Linked DNA regions of Homo sapiens: region 1 is linked to region 2. The links come from fine-mapping of genetic effects on gene expression. Tissue or cell type: subcutaneous fat. Region 2 holds a variant in brackets; the other region holds the start of a gene. All regions are shown on one strand. Distances are from middle to middle.

Evidence for each region. PIP is the estimated chance that this variant, and not a neighbour inherited with it, causes the effect.
Region 1: IRAK4 starts here. The variant in region 2 is fine-mapped to the expression of IRAK4 in subcutaneous fat (FUSION, PIP 0.95).

What each region holds. Positions count from the first base shown.
Region 1 is chr12:43,757,388-43,760,073 of GRCh38, reverse strand. IRAK4 (interleukin 1 receptor associated kinase 4) reads right to left here and starts at 1,123. Exons shown (of 12, transcript NM_016123.4): 1 at 1,058-1,123. It overlaps PUS7L (pseudouridine synthase 7 like), which reads left to right and starts at 1,284. Exons shown (of 9, transcript NM_031292.5): 1 at 1,284-1,344. RefSeq lists enhancers at 417-476, 1,097-1,206, 1,547-1,596.
Region 2 is chr12:43,587,265-43,589,950 of GRCh38, reverse strand. No RefSeq gene overlaps it. Among named protein-coding and RNA genes, the nearest start is that of ADAMTS20, 36 kb to the right of the region's middle. The variant C/T (reference allele first, on the strand shown) is at 1,500.

The sequences.
Region 1 (2,686 bases), 170 kb before region 2:
AACAGAAGAAATTTGAACTTCCCGATAGCCCTCTTCAAGGACCACTCCAAGAAAGGGAAAAGGCAGATTTTAGTATCCTCTGCTTACCAGGGGCCTTGGGCAGTTACGTTTTTGAAGCACTAATAGCGCCGTTTGTTCCCATTCTAAATGCTCAAAGTGCTTTCTCGCTTTCTCAGGGTTTGCTTTTTTTTTTTTTTTTTTCTTTTGAGACGGAGTCTCCCTCTGTTGCCCAGGCTGGAGTGTAGTGGCACGATCTCGGCTCACTGCAACCTCTGCCTCCTGGGTTCAAGCGATTCTCCTGCCTCAGCCCCCGGAGTAGCTGGCATTACGGGCGCCCGCCACTATGCCAGCTAAATTTTGTATCTTAGTAGAGACAGGGGTTTCACCATGTTGGCCAGGCTGGTCTCGAACTCCTGACCTCAAGCGATCCGCCCGCCTGGGCCTCCCAAAGTGCTGGGATTACAAGCATGAGCCACCGCACCTGGACAGGGTTTGCTTTTATCCCTTTGTCTCCCTCTGGCTTCCAAGCTGACAGGTACACTTTTTTCCCCCATCTGCGAATGTACTCATCTGATCCCATAAGCCGCCTCCACTTTCTAATTCCCTGGAAGCTTGGAGGCCGGAGAAACAAGCGAATTACAATCGTGTGGAGGCTCAGCGAGCTGCTGGCGCCACAGGCATCTGTCAGGTGCTGGCCTGACTTCCTGGTTCTGGGGAAAAGAGACTTCATTTCGCAGTCGGGTTCACGGAATCCAGGGCCTGAGAGGTGAGAAACTTGAGGTCCGACTGCGCCCCAGAACAGCTGGGTGACGTCCCTCCAAGCCTCAGGCTCTTCCTCAGGGCCGACGAACTTCTTGATTACCGGGGACCTACCCAAGTCTTTCTTCTGGAGTAAGCTCTGTCAAAGGAACCCACTTCCTCTCTAACTTTTCTCACGGATGATAAAGAGATTTCCGTTCCGCAGCCGACCCCAGCAACCCTGGGGCAGAGGTGCCGAGGCCTGGAAGCGGACCTCGGACGACGTTTGACCGAGGCATTAAGGCGGGGAATGCCTTACCTGCCCGGGCGCGGGCTGCTGAAGCCGGCGACAGAAGAACCAGCCGAACTAGGAAGCGCCGCGAAGGGGCGGGGCCTGCCGGGTTGGCCCCGCCCCACTTCCCCGATGGGCTTCATCTTGGCGCCTCCAGGCGGCTCCACAAAGTGAGAAACTCCACGTATTGCGTAGGGCGCGTCTTTACGTGGGCGCCTGCCCCTTTAATTACGCCCCTGTCGGAGGCTGAAACACTTAAGGCTTCCGGGCATGCGCACAGCGTTGTGCAAATGAATGCCTTCCACTGAACCGAGGTAGACGGGGTCGAGTTTCTTGCGCGATGGTGGGCTTGTATGTGTGTGTGTGTGTGTGTGTGTGGGGGGGGGGGGTGACGAGGTTGGCATTGAGGATCCATACCCTTTGCGCCCAAAGAAAGGTGACGTGGACTAGTGTCGTGCCTTTGGACAGGCAGAGTAAGAGGAGGGAGAAGAAACAGGTAGAGCTGCTGGCCTTGTCGGGGACACCTTTGGACGTGCTGGAGGGCAACGACGCCCTAGTTTTCTGTGAAGTTAAGTAGCTTCTGCAGGACTGGGTTCAGTATTTCTAGTACCTTCTCAGGATCCCTCCTCCGCCAACGAATTCCTCAACCACGGGCCAAGCAAACTACTCCCCCGCCCACTGTCAGCAGCAGTCTCTGTTGAATGGGAATACTGCACCTTCAGGCTTAACGCCACGTGGGCTCCTTTGCTGTCCTCCAGGTCAGTTCCACTCTTCTACCAGGATGCTGGAATTACATTCTCCCCAAGTTTCCCTACCTGTTTCACTTGCTTAGAATGTCTGTCTTCCTCCTTTTTTCTGGGAGAAAGAAAAGATCATTATTCTTTCAGGGCCAATCCCTACAGCTATGTTCTTGACCATGCTGTTTTGTTTTTGAACTCCTCTAACTGTTACTCCATCGGATACATCTTGCTCATTTCCATCAGAATCATCTTACAATTCCAAAAGCATGTTTTGGAATTGTGTCACTTTTCTACTCAAACACTAACAGTAGCCATCCATTGACCACCCAATAGATTCTAAGTCCTTGTCAGGGCATTCAACATCTTCCATAATCTGGTACTAACTCAGCTACATTTTCCAGCACTGTAGTCTCCCTGCATTCCCATCCCCACTGCTCTGTATCTGGACTGCTTGTTTTTCTTGCACACATTGCATGTTTTGTTTGTACATTACTTGTGAGGTCTCTGCCTCATTTCTATCTCTTGAACTATGGAGGACTTAGATGGCCACTTCTTGCATTATGCCTCTTCTAATTATCTTCCACTTCATTCCTACAGCTCTTATTTTGTACTAGTTATTTCATTTATTTAACAATAGTATTTATTGCAGACCTACCATGTGCTTGACACTGTTCAAAATGTGTGATCATCAGTAGTAAATAAGGCAGACAAGGTTACTCCTCACGTGGAACTAACATTCTCTTTGGAGGAGATATACAATAAATAATAAAGAAAAACTTTACCTAGAACTGCTATGCAGAAAATTAAATAGGGTTTTGTGAAAGAGAATCACTTGCTGGGCACGGTGGCTCACGCCTGTAACCCCAGCACTTTGGGAGGCCGAGGCGGGTGGATCACGAGGTCAGGAGTTCAAGAC
Region 2 (2,686 bases):
CCCATAGCAATTACAGTGTTTCTACTTCACTGATCAAATCCTAACTGGTAAACTTGGCAAAGCCTGAAGACCAGATAGATGCACCTGGGTTGGTTATATATTTGGTAAAAATGTTTTGGAACACTGCAGCTGTCTGCAATTAGAAAGAAGGATTAATAAATTTATGAATCATGGTTCTATTTATTGCTCCCTTTGAAAGGTAATTATTTATAACCTTAAGTAGGATTACAGATTACATGTGTCAACAACATCCAATGATAAGCCAGGGATGTTCTGTAAGATGCAAATTCAAGTGACGTTGTAGCTTAAATTTGCATTATCAAGTTCAGATCATCAAGTTCAAATTCAGATATCTTATAACTCAAAATAGTTATTAATCACTCCCCCAAAATATTTAACTCAAACCCATAGATGATTAGTCCATTCTATTCAGTCTTTTTTATTTTTTTAACACATTCTCTATGCCAGGCACTGTGTCAGATACTAGGGACATAATCACAGGTTTAAAAAAAAAAAGACATAGCCCATTCCCCCAGGATGTTTGCTACCTGGAGGTATCTGGCCCCTTGCAACCTTTTAAAGTAGCCAGTTTGGCTATTCATCACCGTGACTGACAGATAAAAATAAAACTCAGAAGGTGACATCTGTTAAGATCATTTTTTTCCAGCCCTCTCCTGGCTCTTGACTCCCAGGATTTCAAATTCTGGTCTTCAGACTCTTGAATTCCAAACCTGCTTCTGCTCCTTCCATCTATTTGGGGATCTTTGATTTTCAGCTCATTGGATTTCACGTTTTCATTGAGCTTTGTTTTCTCCTTGCTTCTGACATTTCCTGGTCTTTTCCAGTTCTGGCCTAAGGAACCAGGCCAGATAAGTTAGCCCCAACCAATCTCATAGCTGAGGGAGTGGGATTCAGATAAATAAGGAGACAGAGGTGAAACACAGAATTGTAACATAATAAAAAGTGCTATACTGTTCGTGCATAACATGGTACACATTCATCGATGGTGATGTAATCAGCACTATAAATTGTGACCTCTATTGACTTCTGGCCCTATAGCTACATATCTTTATCTATACTCTGTTATTCTTCCATTCATCCTACAAATATTTATTATGCAACCACCATGTGCCACCCACATTCATTAATTTTCCTTCATCTCACAGATGTCTCTTCTGCTGTTTCAGGCTGCCACCCAGGCTTTGGAGAAGCAATGTAAAGCAATGAATAACCATGTGGAGTTAAGCTGCTTAGGTTCAAATCTTGACTCACAGTCCTTTATGTCTTAGTTCTTTGTCCATAAAATAGGAATAATCACACACCTACCTCCCTGGAGTGTTAAGGTTAATGTCATTTATGCATTAAAGCCCTACCCCAGGACCTGAAACAGTTAGATAGATATTCAGTGGGCGTAACTATTATTATCATTAATGATTCCACATTTTCATCTTCTCTAAGACCAGTTTTTCATTTTGCCATATTTTCAATCTTTCTTTATT[C/T]GCTCCTGTCTCTTATATCATTAAAAGTCCTCAATTCTGTATATCTCTAGCTATGACCCTCATCATTCTCCTTTCCTTTATAATTTGAATGATTAGAAATATTAATGCGCACTATTTCTATTTCCTTACATCGAATTCACTTCCCAGCCCTTCCCAATAATGCTCACTAATAATCATATTAATTTCCAAGTCCAAAGGTTGCTTGGCCCTCATTTGTTTGAATTACTACAGCATTCCTGAGACTTTCTTTTCCTTCGGCTCTGGCACACTGCTCTTTCTGGTTCTTCTTTCACATTTTCAACCATTTCTTCTCAGTCACTTTTACAGATTTCCCCATTCATACACCTACAACCAATACAATTGGTTGTAGAATTCTGTGATTTCTACGTTCTTAACGTATATTTTATCTACCTCATCCATTCTTTTTACACCACCGTTGCCTCAGCCCGTATCCTCTTTATGTCTGAATTGTTGCAATAGTTTTCAAGTTGGTCATATTGCTTAGTTTCTTGGCCCTTCATATTTTTGCTACAATAGTGATCCTTTCAAAATACAAATGAAATACACTATATTTCTCAGGTCAAAGCAGTGTGGAGGTAATAAGGGGACACAACATCAATATCAAAATAGTACTTCCCCTCCCAAAACTTATAACCCCAAACCCATCATGGGGAAAACATCAGGTAGATTTAAAGAGAGGAGGGTTCTGCAATATATCTTGCCAGTACTCCTCACAACTATCAAAGTCATCGGAAACAAAGAAAGTCCGAGAAAACATTACCACTAAGAGGGGCCTAAGGAGATATGACAACCAGTTGTCATGTCGTATCCTGGATGGAATCTTAAGAAAATGGGATCCTAAGAAAACTAAGAAAATATGACTAAACTATGAACATCAGTTAATACTCATGTATCAATATTGGTTTATTAGTTGTAATAAATCTAGCATATGAATATAAGATGTTAATAACAGGGGAAACCACAGGGGGTGGGCATGTGGAAACTCTTTACTATCTGTTCGATTTTTCCGTAAATCTAAACTGTACTACAAAATAGCCTATTAATAAAAAATAGTTTCTGTCTCTCCCTCTGTTTCCCAAATCTCCCTCCCTCTGTGGGAAGCTCTAGATCCCTCAAATTTTTATCCAAATACAGAAGCCTGGGTGGCTGGTGACATTTAATGTGTG